4 separate regions of the Homo sapiens genome follow, and regions 2, 3 and 4 are each linked to region 1. Evidence: fine-mapped expression QTL. A gene starts in region 1. Each other region holds a variant in brackets. All regions are shown on one strand. Distances are between the middles of the regions.

Evidence for each region. PIP is the estimated chance that this variant, and not a neighbour inherited with it, causes the effect.
Region 2: its variant is the best candidate, but not a certain one, in a credible set for the expression of CLIP1 in whole blood (INTERVAL, PIP 0.63).
Region 3: its variant is the best candidate, but not a certain one, in a credible set for the expression of CLIP1 in whole blood (TOPMed, PIP 0.54).
Region 4: its variant is the best candidate, but not a certain one, in a credible set for the expression of CLIP1 in whole blood (INTERVAL, PIP 0.69).

Annotation. Positions count from the first base shown.
Region 1 is chr12:122,419,555-122,424,702 of GRCh38, reverse strand. It overlaps CLIP1 (CAP-Gly domain containing linker protein 1), which reads left to right and starts at 2,034. Exons shown (of 26, transcript NM_001247997.2): 1 at 2,034-2,182. RefSeq lists an enhancer at 759-858 and silencers at 1,968-2,317, 2,338-2,737.
Region 2 is chr12:122,440,671-122,445,818 of GRCh38, reverse strand. No RefSeq gene overlaps it. Among named protein-coding and RNA genes, the nearest start is that of CLIP1, 21 kb to the right of the region's middle. RefSeq lists an enhancer at 1,913-2,413. The variant G/AGAAAG (reference allele first, on the strand shown) is at 2,578.
Region 3 is chr12:122,459,967-122,465,114 of GRCh38, reverse strand. No RefSeq gene overlaps it. Among named protein-coding and RNA genes, the nearest start is that of ZCCHC8, 38 kb to the left of the region's middle. The variant T/C (reference allele first, on the strand shown) is at 2,954.
Region 4 is chr12:122,450,783-122,455,930 of GRCh38, reverse strand. No RefSeq gene overlaps it. Among named protein-coding and RNA genes, the nearest start is that of CLIP1, 31 kb to the right of the region's middle. The variant G/A (reference allele first, on the strand shown) is at 2,753.

The sequences.
Region 1 (5,148 bases):
TGTCTGTACTAAAAAAATACAAAAAATTAGCCGGGCGTGGTGGCGGGCACCTGTAGTCCCAGCTACTCGGGAGGCTGAGGCAGGAGAATGGCGTGAACCCGGGAGGCAGAGCTTGCGGTGAGCCGAGATCGCACCACTGCACTCCAGCCTGGGCGACAGAGTGAGACTCCATCTCAAAAAAAAAAAAAAAAAAAAAAATTAACGCCAAGACTCCATGATGAACAAAATGATATAATTATAAATAAATAAGCAAATGATGAACATGACAATGACATAGAATAACCCATGAGAACAAGCAAATATACACACACACACACACACACATATATATACATATATATATACATGTGTATATATATATATATTTTTTGAGACAGAGTCTCCCTCCGGCACCCAGGCTGGAGTGTAGTGGCTTGAACTCTGGTCACAGCAACCTCCGCCTCCCGGGTTCAAACAATTCTCGTGTCTCAGCCTCCCGAGTAGCTGGGACTACAGGCATGCACCACCATGCCCAGTTAATTTTTGTATTTTTTGTTAGAGACGGGGTTTCACCATGTTGGCCAAGCTGGTCTTGAACTCCTGTCTGCAGGTGATCCACCCACCTGGGTCTCTCAAAGTGCTAGAATTACAGGCGTGAGCCACCACACCCAGCCCCAAAACAATATTTTTAATAAAGACAGGCTCAGCCTACTGAGTAGAGAAGAAAAGACAAGCCCATAAGTGTTCCTAGCTGAACTCCCCCATTAGAAGTGGTCTGTGCCTCATCCTATGACATCTATGATTCCACAGCTTGCTGATTACAGCTGAAGACTGTTTAGATTAGGGGGTGAGGCGCGCCTTTCAGATTAGGAATATGGATATGGGATTTCAGGAGTACCACCACCACCTGACCTTGCAGCCTGTAAATTAGGGCGATGTTGAATTAGGTAACAGCATTTCGAGGGATTTCAGACATGAATGGAGAGGAGGGGCCAGGAGACAAATTTACATAGTTCAGAACTTCGTGCATTACCAGAGCAGTTCCCTCTTCCTGCTGGTCCAGGCAGCACGGTGCTTTGAATAAAGGTCAGCTAGAGGGGTCACCCGCCGATTATTCTCTTCTACTGGCAAGGAGGAGGAAGCCCCTGCCCCCTTATCCACCACAAAATCCTGGGCTTCCCCGACAGCTGCAAATTCCTCCCTGGAGATGTAAGGCTTCTGGGGTTGCCATGGTCCATGGGAGTGAAATGCTGGCCGCCCTCTGCTACCCCAGCCCCGAGCAGGCTGTTGCAGCCTTCCCTCCTGTCCCTTTCAAAAGCTTTTAAAGGAAATCCCAGGGGGGAAGGAGGATGGGACACTAACCAGGGCTTCCGTCCAAGCAGCCAGGGCGAATAAAAGGGGCTTTTCTCAAACGAACGGAGCAAACCCTGGGATCGTTTCAAAGGATTTTTAACCCGCGGTCGTTCCCGGAGGGAAGTGGGGAGCAGATACAGTTCTTCCCAAGCTTAACCTGCTCTACAGTTCCTTTCAGCATTTTCTCCAGGGACGCCTCATCCAGGGTCTTTCCCTGGAGGGAGGCGAGGGCAGAGATGATCCTTCCCAATCCCCAACTTAACCTGCTTCGGAAGCGCCTTGCAGCCTGTTTCAAAGGATTTCTCACCCTTGTCTGGCGGGAAGGGGAGGGCAAACAAATGAATCAGCCCCAAAGAGCGGGCTGAGGTCGAGGCTGAATGGGGCTCTTGGGTGTGACTTGCAAATTCTGGGAACACTTTGCAGAAATGACGAGAAGCCCCTCGGAGCAGGCCTGTGGGTTTTCCCTCGCACCTTGCTCCCCAAGCCGGGGCTCGGGAGGGTTCGAGGGCGGAGCGGCGGGCGCGCCGGGGCCAGGGTCCTCCCGGGGCCGCGGTGGGCGCAGACAAAGAGGCGGCGGGGCGGCGCGGGGCCGGGCGCGGGCCGCAGGGCCGGTGCGGACTCGAGGGGCCGGGCCGGCCGGGCCGGCCGGGCGGGCGCGGCGGCGGAGCGCTGGGAGGAGCCGCGCGGCGTCTTCTCCTGGCAGCGCGCGCCCGCCCGGCCCCGCGGCGGCGGCGGCGCGTCACGCTCTCCCCCGCCCCGAGCCGACGAGCCGGGAGGCGGGAGGCGGCGGCCGCGGCGGCTGCTGCTGCTGCAGTGGGACAGGTGGCGGCGACCGGCGGCGTCCGAGGAGGTGAGCAGGGGGCGGCGCGGGCCCTCTCCCTTTCCCGGCACCCCCTGCTCCCCTGCCGGCTTCCCGGCCTGCGGGGCCCGCCCAGGGTCGGGTCGGGGGTCGAAGCCCGGCGTCCGGGAGCGGGGCCGAGCCTCGCGCGCCGGAGCCGTCCGGGAGGGGACCGCGGGAGTCTCGGGTGGCCGGCGCCGGAGGCCGGGGGTCCCTGGGGGGCTCCTCCGGAGCTGGAAAAGTGGCGGCCCTGTCAGCGCCGAGCCGGGCCTTCGCTTCCTCCGCCCGCCTCAAGATGGAGCTTGGACTCCTTGCCCCTGCGCCGCCCCAGGCGCCGCTCTCTCCCTGGCGCCCCGCTCCCTCTCCTGGGCCCCGGGGCGGATGTGGGATCGGCCGGACCCCGGGAGGCCGAAGCCGGGCGGGACCTGTTGCCCCGGGCGCCGCGCCTGTCACCTGAGCATTCCTCAGGCCCCGGGTGCCCGGCGCCCGCGATCCGGCATGGAGGGCACCCTGGCCCGGCCTCCCCCGCTGCCCCGGCTTTTGTTTTCCTCTCAAGTGGGGCTGTGATTCTCGGAGACCGGGGAAGGCTGGAGGTGGCCAGATCGCTCTCGGGTTTCCGAAATCACACCGCTGCCCGGTAATCCGAACCTTCTACCGCGGCAGGGGATTGGCGCGGAAGGCAGATGACACTTGTTCAGAGGTTATTTTACAAGCAGAACCTAGCGATTGCCCGAATTGGAAGGTCCTGCCTTTCAAAAATCGGGTTTTGATTCGGGGGTGAATCCTGAATCCGGCTGTTTCTCCACTTCATGTGGCTTTTCCATCTGGCAGGAGCCGAGCGCCACCCCCTCCTCCCTGCACAGCCCCACCTCTTTGGTATGAAGAAATTACACGTTGTCCGTCATCGGTTTAGATACCTGTTTTTAGCAAAACTTGGGCGCCAGTGAACTGTTTTTTAAAACAAAGGGTGGAGAAGATTCTGTAATTGTGTGTGTGTGATTCAGCAGCCTGGCCTTCTTCCTCTTTTAGGACAGTGGCCCCTAGCAGCTCTATAAGTATTAAGTGCTGTGGCCACTGCTGTCATTAGGGTTATGATTCTGGCTGTTCTTATTATTTGATTTGTGTCACTACTGTTAGCGATGGTATCCACGAATCAGGAGAGTATCCCAGAGTCAGGAATGTGTTTGTTTGACTTTTAGATTTAATGATAACCTTTAGCAAGAATCCCCAGGCATGTCGCTTCTCAGACTTGGGGCCTTTTTTTCTCTGTAAATTATAACAATGAACATTTATTGAAGGCATCTTGTGGCCAGGCTCTGGGCTAGCTTTTTATGTGTTTTATTTCATTTAATCAACCCTAACCCAGTGAGCGTGCTGTCGTCATGTGCATTCGGCAGGAGGGTCATAGAAAGGTCAAGTAACTTGACCAGGGTTATACAGCTAAGCACCTGAAGTCAGAATACCTTTTACCAGCATGTGAACTCAGGTATTCTGACTTCAGGTGCTTAGTTATTCGATTAGTATAGGGAATCTGTGGCAAAAAGCAAGGCTAGTCTGTCTGTCTGTCTATCCATCCATCAATCAATCAATCAATCAATGAGAGGGAGCCTCAATCTGTCCCCCCGGCCAGAGTGCAGTGGCGTGATCTCAGCTCACTGCAATCTCGGCCTCCCAGGTTTAAGCGATTCTCGTGCCTCAGCCTCCTGAGTACTGGAATTACAGGTGCCCGCCACCACGCCCGGCTAATTTTTGTATCTGTGGTAGAGATGGGGTTTCACCACGTTGCCCAGGCTGATTTCGAACTCCTGGGCTCAAGTCATCCACCTGCTTTGGGCTCCCAAAGTGCTGGGATTACAGGTGTGAACTACCGCACCTGGCCCCAAGGCTGGTCTACATTAAAGCAAAGTTGAAGTGGGTAATTGCTTGGCCAAAGGCTTGTGCCCGATTTTTAAGGTTCAGAGAAAGCAGTTAAGTACATCTTCCCACTAGACCTAGTTCAAAGGGGAAAACTGAAACCGGGTGGGACCCTGGGTAGGTATTTTGCCTGAAGATCAAGATTTTGCCCTTCCCTATTTTTTCAATCATTGCTTCAGCTCCAGCTTGCACTTCAGCATGACATAAGCTAATCTGGTTTCTGTCCTATTGAGGAGTTTAGAATCTGATATCCTTATCTCTTTTTTTTTTTTTGACATGGAATTTCACTCTTGTTGCCTAGGCTGGAGTGCAATGGAGTGATCTCGGCTCACTGCAACCTCTGCCTACTGGGTTCAAGCGATTCTCCTGCCTCAGCTTCCCGAGTAGCTGGGATTTTAGGTGCCTGCCACCATGCCTGGCTAATTTTTTGTATTTTTTTAGTAGAGATGGAGTTTCATCACGTTGGCCAGCCAGGCTGATCACACCTGACCTCAGGTGATCCGCCTGCCTCAGCCTCCCAAAGTGCTGGGATTATAGGTGTGAGCCACCACGCCTGGCCTGATGTCCTTATCTTAAAAAAAATTTTTTTTACCTAGTGGCTAAAATTCACTCTGTCACATCCCATGTGACTCATAAGGGACATGAACTAACTCAGTCATGTTTGATTCTTGCTTTTTTTTTTTTTTTTTTTTGAGACAGAGTCTCGCATCTCGCTCTGTTGCCCAGGCTGGAGTGCAGTGGTGCAACCTCCGCTTCCCAGGCTCAAGCAATTCTCCTGCCTCAGCCTCCCGAGTAGCTGGGATTACAGGCACACACCACGGCACCGGGCTAGTTTTTGTATTTTTAGTAGAGACAGGGTTTCACGATGTTGGCCAGGCTGGTCTCGAACTCCTGACCTCAAGTGATCCTCTCACCTCGGCCTCCCAAAGTGCTGGGATTACAGGCATGAGCCACTGTGCCCGGCCGATTCTTGCTTTTTAAGTGCTGTCTGCTGGGATTCGAAAGCCAGTGGATGGTGTATAAGAGATGAGTTGATTCTCTTATGGCCCATACAAAGGTAGGCA
Region 2 (5,148 bases), 21 kb before region 1:
CTTTAACTCTCAACCTCAGGTGATCTGCCAGCCTTGGCCTCCCAAAGTGCCGGGATTACAGGCGTGAGCCACCATGCACGGTTCCTTTGCTTTTTTGTTTGTTTGTTTTTTGAGACAGAGTCTCACTCTGTTGCCCAGGCTGGAATCCAGTGGCACAATCATGGCTCACCACAGTCTTGACCTCCTGGGCTCAGGTGATCCTCCGACCTCAGCCTCCTGAGTAGCTGGGACTATAGGCAAACACCACCACACCCAGCTAATTTTTTTATATTTTTCGAAGAGACAGGGTTTTGCTATGTTGCTCAGGCTAGTCTCCAACTCCTGGACTCAAGCAATCCACCCGCCTCGACCTCCCAAAATGCTGGGATTACAGGCATGAGCCACCACGCCCGGTCACACATTTTGTTTATCTACTCATTAGTTGATGGACATTTGGGTTGTTTCTACTTGTTGACTCTTATAAATAATGCTATGAACATTCGTGTACCAGTTTTTGTATGGATATATGTTTTTATTTATCTTGGGAATACACCTATGAGGATAATTACTGGGTCATATGGGAACTCTATGTTTCACATTTTGACAAGTTGACAAACTGTTTTCAAAGTAGCTGTGCCATCTTACATTCTTACCAGCAATGTATGAGGATTCTAATTCCTTTACATTCTTGGCACCACTTGTTACTATCTGTCCCTTTTATTTTAGTTATCTTAGTGGGGGTGAAGTGGCATCTCACTGTTATTTTGATGGGCATTTCCCCAGTGACTGATGTTGAACATCTTTCCATGTGCTTATTGGCCATTTGTATATCTTCTTTGGATACATGTCTATTCAAATTCTCTACCTTTTTTTTTTTTTTTTTTAACAAATGGGGGCTGGGGATCAGGCGTGGTGACGCCTGTAATCCCAGCACTTCCGGAGGCCGAGGCGGGTGGATCACCTGAGGTCAGGAGTTTGAGACCAGCCTGACCAACATGGAGAAACCCCATCTCTACTAAAAATACAACATTAGCCAGGCATGGTGGCGCATGCCTGTAATCCCAGCTACTCGGGAGGCTGAGGCAGGAGAATCGATTGAACTCGGGAGGTGGAGGTTTTGGTGAGCTGAGCTCATGCCATTGCACTCCAGCCTGGGCAATAAGAGCGAAACTCTGTCTCAGGAAAAAAAAAAAAAAAGCAGAAAAAGAAAAAGAAATGGGGGCTGGGGACAGTGGCTCAAGCCTGTAATCCCAGCACTTTGAGAGGCCAAGGCGGGTGGATCACCTGAGGTCAGGATTTCAAGACTGGCCTGGCCAATATGGCAAAACCCCATCTCTACTAAAAATATACAAATTAGCTGGGCGCGGTGGCACGTGCCTGTAGCCCCAGCTACTCAGGAGGCTGAGGCAGGGGAATCACTTGAACCCAGGAGGTGGAGGTTGCAGTAAGCTGAGATTGCCCTACTGCACTCCAGCCTGGGCGACAGAGTGAGACTGGGTCTAAAAAAAAAATAAATGGGGTCTTGCTATGTTGTCCAGGCTGATCTCAAACTCCTGGACTCAAGTGATCCTCCTACCTTGGCGTCTCAAAGTGCTGGGATTACAGGTGTGAACCAACCATGCCTAGCCATCCTCTGCCCATTTTTAATTGGGCTATATGTCTTTTTATTGTTGCATTGTGGCTGGGAGCAGTGGCTCACGTCTGTAATCCTAGCACTTTGGGAGGCAGAGGCAGGAAGATCACGTGAGGCCAGGAGATCAAGACCAGCCTGGTCAACATAGTGAGACCCCATCTCTATAAAAAGATGTAATGGCTGGGGACGGGAAAACCAAAGTGGGAGGATTGCCTGAGCCCAGGAGTTCGAGACCAGCCTGGGCAACACAGAGACACCAACTCTTCATTTCTCTGCCTCATCTGAAACGAGGCGGCTAACTTCCAGTTTGCAGAAAATATAAGAAATAGAAGAAAAGGCCGGGCACGATGGCTCATGCCTCTAACCCCAGCACTTTGGGAGGCTGAGGCGGGCAGATCACTTTAGGCCGGAAGTTTGAGACCAGCCTGGCCAACATGGTGACACTGTGTCTCTACTGAAAATACAAAAATTAGCCAGGCGTGGTAGTGCATACCTGTACTCCCAGCTACTCGGGTGGTTGAGGCGGGAGAATCGCTTGAACCTGGGAGGCGGAGGTTGCAGTGAGCCGAGATCAAGCCAATGCACTCCAGCCAGGGCAACAGAGTAAGAAAAAGAAAGAAAGAAGGAAAGAAAGGAAGGAAGGAAGGAAAGAAAGAAAGAAAGAGAAAGAAAGAAAGAAAGAAAGAAAGAAAGAAAGAAAGAAAGAAAGAAAGAAGAAAGAAAGAGGGAAGGAGGGAAGGAGGGAACGAAGGAAGGAAGGAAAGAAAGAAAGAAGAAAGAAAGGGAAGGAGGGAATGAAGAAAGGAAGGAAGGGAAGAAAAGGAAGGAAAGGAAGGAAGCAAGGAGGGAGGGAGAGGGAGAGAGAAAGAGAGACAGAAAGAAAGAAAGAGAAAGAGAGAGGAAGAAAGAAAAAGAAAGAAAGAAAAGAAAAGAAAGGAAGAAAGGAAGAAAGAAAAGAAAAGAAA[G/AGAAAG]GAAGGAAGAAAGGAAGAAAGAAAAGTTAAGCCAGGTGCGTGGCTCATGCCTGAAATCCCAGCACCTTAGGAGGCTGAGGCGGGCAGATCACGAGGTCAGGAGTTCAAGACCAGCCTGACCAATATGGTGAAACTCTGTCTCCACTAAAAAAAAAAAAAAAAAATTAGCCAGGTGTGGTTGTGTGCGCCACCTCGTCTCTATTAAAAAAAAGTTAAATAACAAATCCAGAAGGAAGAACATTCTATAGGACAACTGGCCCAGTTTTTTCTTTCTTTCTTTCTTTCTTTTTTTTTTTTTTTTTGAGATGGGGTCTCGCTTTGTCACCCAGGCTGGAGTGCAGTGGGACGATCTTGGCTCACTGCAACCTCTGCCTCCTGGGCTCAAATGATTCTCTTGCCTCAGCCTCCTGAGTAGCTGGGGTTACAGGCACGCACCACCAAGTCCAGCCAATTTTTTTTTTTTTGTAGTAGAGACGGGGGGTTTCACCATTTTGCCCACGCTGGTCTCAAACTCCTAAGCTCAAGCAATCCACCACCTTGGCCTCCCAAAGTGCTGGGATTACAGGCATGAGCCACCACAACCAGCCCAATTTTTTCAAAGGCATTACAGAAAAAAAAAAAAAGGAGGGTACTGTGATACACTGAAAAACTAAAAATAGTGTTAAGAGAAATTGAAGAAGACCTAAATAAATGAAAAGACGGCCGGGCGCAGTGGCTCACACCTGTAATCCCAGCACTTTGGGAGGCCGAGGCAGGCGGATCATGAGGTCAGGAGATCGAGACCATGCTGGCTAACATGGTGAAATCCCGTCTCTACTAAAAATACAAAGAAATTAGCCGGGCGTGGTGGCGGGCGCCTGTAGTCCCAGCTACTCAGGAGGCTGAGGCAGGAGAATGGTGTGAACCCAGAAGGCGGAGCTTGCAGTGAGCCGAAATCGCACCACTGCACTCCAACCTGGGTGATAGAGCGAGACTCCGTCTCAAAATAAAATAAAATAAAATAAAAAATAAATGAAAAGACATTCTGGCTGGGCGCGGTGGCTCACACCTGTAATCTCAGCACTTTGGGAGGCTGAAGCGGGCGGTTCACCTGAGGTCAGGAGTTCGAGACCAGACTGGCCAACATGATGAACCCTCATCTCTACTAAAAATAAAAAATTAGCTGGGAGTGATGGTAGACACCTGTAGTCCCAGCTACTTGGGAGCCTAAGGCAGGAGAATCGCTTGAACCCGGAGGTGGAGGTTGCAGTGAGCTGAGATCGCACTACTGCGCTTCAGCCTGGGTGATGGAGAGAGACTCCATCTCAAAAAAAAACAACAACAACAAAAATTTTTTTAAAAGATGGAGTCCCACCCTGTCACCCAGGCTAGAGTGAAGTGGTGCAATCATAGCTCACTGTAGCCTTTTAACTCCTGGTTTCAAGGGATCCTCCCACCTCAACCTCCCGAGTAGCTGGGACCACAGGCGCATGCCACCATGCTCAACTATTTTTTTGTTGTTGTTCTCTTTTCACTTTTCTTTTTTTTTTTTTTTAAGAGTTGATGTCTCTCTCAGCCTGGCCATCATGACAAAACCCCATCTTTACTAAAAACGCAAAAATTAGTGGGGCATGGTGGCACATACCTATAATTTCAGATAGCCAGGAGGCTGAGACACCAGAATCACTTGAACCTAGGAGGCAGAGGTTGCAGTGAGCTGAGATTGTGCCACTGCACTCCAGCCTGGGCAACACAGTGAGACTTTGTATCTGAATTTACAAAAAAAGAGAATTCTGGACTGGATATAAAGATTTAGCAGGCTGGGGGCCGGGCGCAGTGGCTCAAGCCTGTAATCCCAGCACTTTGGGAGGCCGAGGCGGGTGGATCACGAGGTCAGGAGATTGAGACCATCCTGGCTAACGCGGTGAAACCCCGTCTCTACTAAAAATACAAAAAATTAGCCGGGCGTAGTGGCGGGCGCTTGTAGTCCCAGCTACTCGGGAGGCTGAGGCAGGAGAATGGCATGAACCCGGGAGGTGGAGTTTGCAGTGAGCCGAGATTGCGCCACTGCACTCCAGCCTGGGTGACAGAGCGAGACTCCGTCTCAAAATAAATAAATACATAAATAAAGATTTAGCAGGCCGAGCACAGCAGCTCAAGCCTGTAATCCCAGCACTTTGGGAGGCCAAGGTGGGTGGATCACTTGAGGTCAGGAGTTTAAGACAAGCCTGGCCAACATGGTGAAACCCCATCTCTACTAAACATAGAAAACTTGGCCAGGCACAGTGGCTCACGCCTGTAATCCCAGCATTTTGGAAGGCTGAGGTGGGCGGATCATGAGGCCAGGAGATTGAGACTATCCTGGCCGACATTGTGAAACCCCATCTCTACTAAAAAAATACAAAAATTAGCTGGGTGTGGTGGCACATGCCTGTAATCCCAGCTACTCGGGAGGCTGAGGCAGGAGAATCTCCTGAACCGGGGAGGCGGAGGTTGCAGTGAGCCAAGATTGCGCCACTGCACTCCAGCCTGGGTGACAAAGCGAGACTCTGCCTCAAAAAAAAAAAAAAAAAATTAGGAATTGTTTCTGTA
Region 3 (5,148 bases), 40 kb before region 1:
TAATTTTCATTGTGATGGGGTCTCCCTACATTACCCAGGCTGGTCTTTAACTCCTGGGCTCAGGAGATCCACCCGCCTTAGCCTCCCACAGTGTCAGAATTATAACCACGAACCACCACGTTCCGCAAAAAAATTATTTATTTATTTATTTATGAGATGGAGTCTCGCTCCGTCACCCAGGCTGGAGTGCAGTGGCGCAATCTCAGTGGCGCAATCTCAGCTCACTGCAACCTCTGCCTCCCAGGTTCAAGCGATTCTCCTGCCACAGCCTCCCTAGTAGCTGGGACTGCAAGTGCATGCCACCATGCCTGGATAATTTTTTTGTATTTTTAGTAGAGATGGGGTTTCACCATGTTGGCCAGGCTGGTCTTGAACTCCTGACCTTGTGATCCGCCACCTCAGCCTCCCAAAGTGCTGGGATTACAGGCACGAGCTACCGCGCCCGGCCTAAGAAATGTATTTTTTAAACAAAATTTCCTATCAACAATATGGCTGCATTTGGAATTTTGTAATAGGAGGAATTACTGAAAAGGCAAGGGGTGTGGCCCTTACTGAACGCTGACATTCCGGGCAGCTGAGATTGCTCCTTTGTAGGGTGACCTCATGCCAGAGTGATTTCTTAATGTTTTCCGTCATGGAAGCAAATTCATTAGTCATAAGTGAGAATGACAAATGAAACTGGATTGGAACAGGTTGTGGGATTGGACCTGGGGCAAATTTCTCACAGACTTGGAACAAGTTTCCTTCTGTTCCTACCACAGTCCTGATCTTGGATTCTTCAAACCAATTACAACTCTGTTCATTGTACTGGCCCATTCTACTAAGTTTTTATTTAGAACATTTGGAGGAATACTGAACACCTACTATATGAGGGTAGTTGAAATCTAATAGGGTTCATGACTTTAGAGAGTCAAGGATTAGGACAGGCATAGCAGGCATGTGGTAGAAACAGAATGTTTGCCTACAGTCATAATTGAAGGAAATGTCAAATTTCCCTGAATTCTATCCAGAAGGTCCGTGGACCCCCAGTTAAGAACCTTGCAGCAGGGCTGGATGTGGTGGCTCACGCCTGTAATCCCAATGCTTTGGGAGGCCAAGACAAGAGGATAGGTTGAGGCCAGTAGTTTGAGACCAGTCTTGGCAACATAGCAAGGTTCGAGACCTGTCTCTACAAAAAATAAACAAAATTAGCTTGGTGTGGTGGTACACACCCGTGGTCCCAACTGCTCGGAAGGCTGAGATAGGAGGACGGTCGAGGCTGCAGTGGACTGTGATCGTGACATTGAACTTCAGCCTGGGTCAGAGACAGACCCTGTCTCCTAAGAAAAAAAAATTTTGTTGAGCAAGTGACTAGATTCAAAGGTTAAAATAGCCTACTTGTATATTACCTTTTAGAGATTGGCTGAGGTCTAAGTAGATTGGTGCTCAGGGTAAGAGTTTGAACTCAGTGATCACTAAGGTTCCTTCCAACTCTTTTTTTTTTTAGAGAAAGGGTGTTGCTCTGTTGCCCAGGCTTCAGTGCAGTGATGTGATCATAGCTCACTATAGCCTCGAACACCTGGGCTCTCGCTATCCTCCTGCCCGGCCTCCCAAGGAGCTGGGGCTAAAGGCACATGCTGCCATGCATGGCTAATTTTTTCATTTTTATTTTATTTATTTATTTATTTTATTATTTTTATTTTTTGAGACGGAGTCTTGCTCTGTCGCCCAGGCTGGAGTGCAGTGGTGCAATCTCAGCTCACTGCAAGCTCCGCCTCCCGTGTTCGCGTCATTCTCCTGCCTCAGCCTCCGGAGTAGCTGGGACTACAGGTGCCCGCCACCACGCCCGGCTAATTTTTTGTAGTTTTAGTAGAGACAGGGTTTCACCGTGTTAGCCAGGATGGTCTGGATCTCCTGACCTTGTGATCCTCCCACCTCGACCTCCCAAAATGCTGGGATTACAGGCGTGAGCCACTGCGCCCAGCCTCATTTTTATTTTTGTAGACATGGGGTCTCAGTTTGTTGCCCAGGCTGCTCTTGAACTCCTGGGCTCAAGCAATCCTTCTGCCTCAGCCTCCCAAAGTGCTGGCATTACAGGCCAGAGCCACTGCACCCAGCCATCCTTCCAACTCCTTGGTCTGTGTTTTGCCCTTACTTGAGCTTCCTTCATCATAACTTGCAAACTTGCATTTCATTTTTGATGAACTGAAGCAATTTTCTTTCTTTTTTTTTTTTTTTTTTTTTTTGAGATGGAGTCTCGCTCTGTCACCCAGGCTGGAGTGCAGTGGCGTGATCTCGGCTCACTGCAAGCTCTGCCTCCCAGGTTCACGCCATTCTCCTGCCTCAGCCTCCCGAGTAGCTGGGACTACAGGCACCTGCCACCATGCCCAGCTAATTTTTTGTGTTTTTAATAGAGATGCGGTTTCACCATGTTAGTCAGGATGGTCTCAATCTCCTGACCTCGTGATCTGCCCGCCTCGGCCTCCCAAAGTGCTGGGATTACAGGCGTGAGCCACCGCACCCGGCCTGAACTGAAGCAATTTTCTAAGCTCCTTCTTTATTCTGATGCTCAGAGTAAAATTGCCAGTATATTTAATGTGCTTTGTGTAAATGACTCACTCCTGAGTGTTTTTAGGATGTTTAGATAAAGATAGGCCTTGTTGTGCTCTTTAGAAGAAATTGCGACCAAGTGTGTTTTACAAAGGAATAGGTAAATAACTGCAGGCACAAAACATAAATGATCCACTGAATATTCATCAGTTATGGTAGGAATGGGTGGTATTCATTTCCCAGTTTGTTGAGTATTTTTATCAAGAAGGAGTATTGAGTTTTGTCAAATACATTTTCCGTATTGAGATTATCATGCAGTTTTTGTCCATTCTATTGATTCAATGTATTACATTAATTGATTTTCAGATGTTGAACCAACCTTGTATTCTATCACATTTGATCATATTGTTTAATCCTTTTTATA[T/C]ATTGGTGGATACAGTTTGCTAGTATTTTGGTGAGGATTTTGTATCTATGTTTATTAAAATATTGGTCAGTAGCTTTCTCCTTTTTCAACCATTTCTTGTATTGATTTTTAATTAAAAAATAATTTTTTTTTGAGACAGGGTCTCTCTCTGTTGCTCAGGCTGGAGTGCAGTGGCAAAATCTTGGCTCAATGCAACCTCCACCTCCCAGGCTCAAGAGATCCTCCCACTTCAGACTCCTGAGTAGCTGGGACAACAGGTGTACACCACCATGCCAGGCTAATTTTTTTATTTTTTGTAAAGATGGAGTTTGACCATGTTGTCAGGCTAATTTTTTAAATTTTAATTTTTTTGAACCAAAATGTCTTTTAATTGAATACTGAATACATTCTGTTAGGACATAAGAGTGACTGACAATTTTTTTTTTTTTTTTGACACGGAGTTTTGCTCTTGTTGCCCAGGCTGGAGTGCAGTCATGCGATCTTGGCTCACTGCAACCTCTGCCTCTCAGGTTCAAGCAATTCTTGTGCCTCAGCCTCCCTAGTAGCTGGGATTACAGGCACCTGCCACCATGCCCGGCTAATTTTTGTATTTTTAGTAGCACAGGGTTTCACCATGTTGGCCAGGCTGGTCTCGAAGTCCTGACCTCAGATGATCACCCGCCTTAGCCTCCCAAAGTGCTGGGATTACAGACACAAGCTCGATTTTACAGCCCAGTTTTTTTTTTTAAGACAGGATCTCCCTTTGCTGCCCAGGCTGGAGCACAGTGACATAAACATCGCTCACTGCAGCCTCTACCTCCTGGGCTCAAGTGATCCTCCCGTCTCAGCCTCCCAAGTATCTGAGACCACAGGTAAGCACCACCATGCCCAGCTAATTTTTAAATTTTTTATAGAGACAGAGTCTTGCCTTGCTGCCTGGGTGAGTCTCAAACTCCTGGGCTCAAGAGATCCTCCCACTTCAGTCTCCCAAAGTGCTAGGATTGCAGGCATGAGCCACTGCGCCTTTATAAGACTGATGTCTTTATAAGAAGAGGGAAATCTGGCACAGAGAGATGGAGGCAGAAAGCGATGTGGAGATGGAGGCAGAGACTGGAGTGATGCATCTATGAGCCAAGGAATGCCAGAAGCTGTGAGAGAGGCATGGAACAGCCCGTCCCTCAGAGTGCCCAGAAGGAGCCAACCTGGGAATTCTAGCCTTGAAAGCTGAGAGAATATGGCTGGGCTCAGTGGCTCACCCCTGTAATCCCAGGACTTTAGGAGGCCAAGGTTGCAGTGAGCTGAGGTCGTGCCATTGCACTCCAGCCTGGGCAACAGAGTGAGACTCTGTCTCAAAAAAACAAAACAAAACTGAGAACTGAGAGAATATGTTTCTACATTTCTGCTGATTAAGCCACCCAGTTTGAGGGACTTTGTGGAAGGCCCCAGTTAGCTGATTCTCATCCTTACAGACAGGCAGAATCTTTTCCAAAGAATTGCATCCATGTTCATCTTTTCCTGTTTTCTGTGATCTCTGAGGAGTCCGAGACTTCCAGAATGAGATGAGCATTTCATAGTCAACATTGGCCTTATCTCGCCAGACACTGAGTACAGTCAACCCTACAGTAAACTCTACTATACTATATTACTATATAGGGCTATGCTATAGCAATAGTTCTCAACACAGAGTTTACAGACAAATTGTCTCTCAGAAATCCACAAGTTCTCCACATAATTATTTTTTTTTGAGACGGGGGGTCTCTCTGTTGTCCAGGCTAGAGAGCAGTGGTGAACTCTTGGCTGACTGCAGCCTCGACCTCCCAGGCCCAAGTGATCCTCCCAACTCAGCCTCTGAGTAGCTGGGATCACGGGTGCACGCCACCACACCCGGCTAATTTTTTTTTTTTTTTTTTCAGTAAAGACAGGATTTTGCCACGTTGCCCAGGCTGGTCTGGAATTCCTGGCCTCAAGTGATTGCCCACCTTGGCCTCCCTAAGTGCTGGGATTACAAGCGTGAGCTGCTGTGCCTGGCCCTGATAAATTTTTATATTTTCTGCTTTCATTTCAATGATAATGAAAAATCAGACATTAAGATCTTTTTTTTAATTTATTTTTTTGAGACAGCGTCTCGCTCTGTTTCCCAGGCTAGAGTGTTGTGACGCAATCTCGGCTCACTGCGACCTCTGCCTCCCAGGTTCAAGGGATTCTCCTACCTCAGC
Region 4 (5,148 bases), 31 kb before region 1:
GTGCAGTGGCACGATCTCGGCTCACTGCAAGCTCTGTCTCCCAGGTTCACACCATTCTCCTGCCTCAGCCTCCCAAGAAGCTGGGACTACAGGCGCCCGCCACCACGCCTGGCTAATTTTTTGTATTTTTTTTTAAGTAGAGACGGGGTTTATCCATGTTAGCCAGGATGGTCTCGATCTCCTGACCTCGTGATCCGCCCGCCTCGGCCTCCCAAAGTTCTGGGATTACAGGCGTGAGCCACTGCGCCCGGCCTTTCCTTCTTTCTTTTTCTTTTCTTTTTTCTTTCTTTTTTTTTTTTTTTTTGAGACGGAGTCTCGCTGTGTCACCCAGGCTGGAGTGCAGTCTCGGCTCACTGCGAGCTCCGCCTTCTGGGTTCACGCCATTCTCCTGCCTCAGCCTCCTGGGAGTAGCTGGGACTACAGGCGCCCACCACCACACCAGGCTAATTTCTTTGTATTTTTAGTAGAGATGGGGTTTCACCATGTTAGCCAGGATGGTCTTGATCTCCTGACCCGGTGATCCGCCTGCCTTGGCCTCCCAAAGTGCTGGGATTACAGGCGTGAGCCACTGCGCCCAGCCTTTTTTTTTTTTTTTTTTTTTTTTTTTTTGAGACAGCATCTTGCTCTGTCACTACTCAGGCTGGAGTGCAGAGGCATGATCACGACTCACTGCAGCCTCAACTTCCAGAGGCTTAAGTGATCCTCCTGCCTCAGCCTCCCAAAGTGCTAGGTTTACAGACTGAGTCCCCACACTCTGCCTTTATGGAGACTTCTTCATGCAGGCGTGATCCATTATTAACTTAATCTCCAGCCCTTTCCCCTCACCCAGAAGACGGAGGGTGAGGCTGAAAGTTTCAGGATGCTAATCATGGTTTGGTCATTCTGGTGACCAGCCCCCATCCTGAAGCTATCCAAGAGCCCACCAAGTTTGGCTTCATTAGAACAATAGGTCTTCCTGTCACCCAGAAAATTCCAAAGGATTAGGCGCTCGTATTAGGAGACAGGGTCAAAGACCAAATGGTAGAACGAAAGATGCTCCTAACATTTTTTGCTTTAGAAACTGCAAAGGTTTTAGGAGCTCTGGCCAGAAGCCAGGGGCAACAAAGATCAAAATGTATATTTCTATTTTTTTTTTTTTTTGACACAGAGTCTCGCTCTGTCACCCAGGCTGGAGGGCAGTGGTGCGATCTTGGCTCACTGCAGCCTCCGCCTCGCGGGTTCAAGTGATTCTCCTTCTCAGCTTCCCGAGTAGCTGGAATTACAGGCATGTGCCACCATGCCCAGCTAACTTTTGTATTTTTAGTAGAGACGGCGTTTCACTGTGTTGGCCAGGCTGCTCTCAAACTCCTGGCCGAAAGTGATCTGCCCACTTTGGCCTTCTAAAGTGCTGGGATTACAGGCGTGAGCCACCATGCCCGGCCTATTTCTTATTATGTCACAATATCACATCCTATCAGCAGGAGGGAGAAAAGAAAGATAAATGTTTGCCCTCTCCCTTTAAGAAAACTGCCTGGACTGGACACTGTAGCTCACCCCTGTAATCGTAACTACTCGAAGGCTGAGGCCGGAGGATCGCTTGAGCCCAGGAGTTCAAGTTTGCAGTGAACTGTAATCATGCCACTATACTCTAGCCTGGGCAACAGAGCAAGCCTCCATCTCTTACACACACACACACACACACACACACACACACACACACTTCCAAGAGGTTGCATGGGCTACTTCAGCTTGGCCAGAACTTATTTTCATGGCCATCCCTAATAACACAGGAAGTTAGGAAATGTCTTCATTCTGGATGTCACATGGCAGGAAGAATCAGATACAGGAAGAGGGTAGAATGGCTTTGAGGGGGGCGGGACTTCTGGTAGTCTCTGCTTCAGTCTTTGAAAATGGAAGCACAGTAGTGAATGTTATAGTTGACTGTGCAATACTCACTTTACCCTGATCATGGTATATTCAGGGTGGACAGACCTGGGCCCATCTGGGCCCACCTGGGCCAAGGAGATGCATGCCAGAGGGTGCGTGTGTGCGTGCACGTGTGTGTGTGCATGCACACGCACACTTAGAAAACCATAGGAAAGGCCAGGAGCAGTGGCTCACACCTGTAATCCCAGCACTTTGGGAGGCCGAGGCAGGCGGATCACCTGAGTTCAGGAGTTCGAGACCAGCCCGGCCTAAAGGGCGAAACCCCGTCTCTACTAAACATACAAAATTAGCCAGGTGTGGTGGCGCAGGCCTGTAGTCCCAGCTACTAGGGAGGCTGAAGTAGGAGAATCGCCTGAACCTGGGAGGCAGAGGTGGCAGTGAGCCAAGATTGCACCACTGCACTCCAGCCTGGGGAGACAGAGTGAGACTCTGTCTCAAAAAAAAAAAAAAAAAAAAAAAGCAAAAGCAAAAGCAAAAGCAAAGCAAACCACAAGAAAGCATGAATAGGAAATTGTCAGGCCTCTGAGCCCAAACTAAGCCATCATATCTCCTGTGCTGCACGAATACATCCAGATGGCCTGAAGCAACTGAAGATCCACAAAAGAAGTGAAAATAGCCTTAACTGATGACATTCCACCACTGTGATTTGTTTCTGCCCCACCCTAACTGATCAATGTACTTTATAATCTCCCCCACCCTTAAGAAGGTTCTTTGTAATTCTCCCCACCCTTGAGAATGTACTTTGTGAGATCCACCCCCTGCCTGCAAAACATTGCTCCTAACTCCACCGCCTATCCCAAAACCTAAAGGAACTAGTGGTAATCAC[G/A]CCACCCTTTGCTGACTCTCTTTTCGGACTCAGCCCGCCTGCACCCAGGTGAAATAAACAGCCTTGCTGCACACACAAACCCTGTTTGGTGGTCTCCTCACACAACGCATGAGACAGAAATGTATCATATATCATATCCATTGCTCTGGCAACCATCTTACCTTAGGATGGTTGAATGAAGGATGAAGCCACCTCCGCAAATGGCAGAGAAAGAGAAGAAAAGATTTTGGGTGCTTGAGAAATTTAGCGGCTTGAGCCACTACATCAACCAGCCCTGAAGCTGAACCGTGTTGCAAACGTCCTGTTTTGTGAGCTAATGAGTCTCCTTATTGTCTCCGCTAGTCTGAGTTAGACCAGCTGCTGAAATCGTGATAACTGATGTAAACTCTAATAAAATGTAAGGTAATTTTTGACCAGCAGAGCATAAACCTCAACATCTGACTGGTCCCAGCAGATTTAGGCACCCTTATCTCCTTTTAGCTTTAGGAATTTCATTTGGGATTCAAATGGCTTTATCTGACAGGAACATATGCATAGCTGTTTCCAGGTAGGCTCTGATGGCCTGTATTTGATGGAGTAAGATTGGTTTTACATTTAAGAAAGGTTAAAGTAGAGGGGAACAGGCATTCTCATACATTATTGGTGGGGATATAAATTGGCTCACTCTTTTTTGGGAGGGTAATTTTTTTAAAAATGTAAATGTACATATTTTAGATTCAGTGGTTCTAATCTAAGCATTAATCCTACAACTATGTTTGTAAAAGCACACTGTATGCGCTTCAGATTCAAGCTTCTTGGTAAGACAAAAAACATTTTTAAGAAGAAAAGAAATACGAGTATACTATATATGCACCCAAGGCTGTTTATTGTGGCAATGTGTGTAGTAGCAAGTACTGAAAATAACCTAAATGTCTATTGGTAGGAATCTGTTGAAATCATAGCACACTATGATCTTACAACGCAATGGTTTAAAAAAATGAGGAGGCTGGGTACAGTGGCTCGCGCCTGTAATCCCAGCACTTTGGGAATCTGAGGCAGCAGGATCGCTTGAGCCTAGGAGTTCAAGACCAGCCTGAACGACATGGCAAGAACTCATCTCTAGGGAAAAAAAAAATTAAATAATTTAAAATATGGGGCCAGGCGTGGTGGCTCATGTCTATAATCTCAGCACTTTGGGAGGCCGAGGCAGGTGGATCACCTGAGGTTGGGAGTTCGAGACCAGCCTGGCCAACATAGAGAAACCCCGTCTCTACTAAAAATACAAAATTATCCTGTAATCCCGCATACCTGTAATCCCAGCTACTCGGGAGGATGAGGCAGGAGAATTGCTTGAACCTGGGAGGTGGAGGTTGCAGTGAGTAGAGGTTGCACCACTGCACTCCAGCCTGGGCAACAAGAGCAAAACTCTGTCTCAAAAAAAATTTTTTTAATATAAGGTAATCTACATCTTCTGATATGGAAAGAGGTCTATCTAGAGGTCTATCTATATATTCCCCTAATATATGTATTAACTAAAGAGTGTGGGTGTGTGTGTATATATAAAAGATAAGTTGTAATAGATAATATATAACATGTATTATTTAATATATTAACTTTTCTTTGTAATACATGTTAACTAAACTATATTACACATATATGTATGTTACATTTTATATTGTTACTGGAATACATATATTTATATATATATACTTTGTTAATTTTTTTTTGAGACAGAGTCTTGCTCTGTTGCCCAGGCTGGAGTGCAGTGGTGCGATCTCTGCTCACTGCAACCTCCGCCTCCTGGGTCCAAGCAATTCTCTGCCTCAGCCTCCCAAGTAGCTGGGACTACAGGCAGGTGCTACCACACCCGGCTAATTTTTGTATTTTTTATAGAGACGGGGTTTCGCCATGTGGGCCAGGCTGGTCTTGAAGTCCTGGCCTCAAGTGATCCACCCGCCTCGGCTTCCCAAAGTGCTGGGATTCCAGGCGTGAGCCACCATGCCTGGCTGAATGTATATATATGGTTAGGTGCAATACCCACATATATGAGTTTAAATAATTTTGATTTGCTGTCTCACATCATAAATTACACAAAAAATCTATCCCAGGAGAATAAAAGCAAAAACCTTAAAAATTTTATAGGAAAATATAGGCTAATACTTTGTGACCTAAGAGTTTTAAAAACATCTATTAATTGAAAAGCACCATTTAAAAAAATTTAAAAAACACAACAAAACAAAACAAAAAAAAAACAGGGCACGTATGGGAAAAAATATTTGGAACATATAGAATCATAATATATTAAAAACCACTACAATCAGTTTAAAAATAGACAATGCAACAGAATAATGGGCCAAAGATATGAAGTCGGCTGGACACGGTGGCCTATACCTGTAATCCTAGCACCTTGGGAGGCC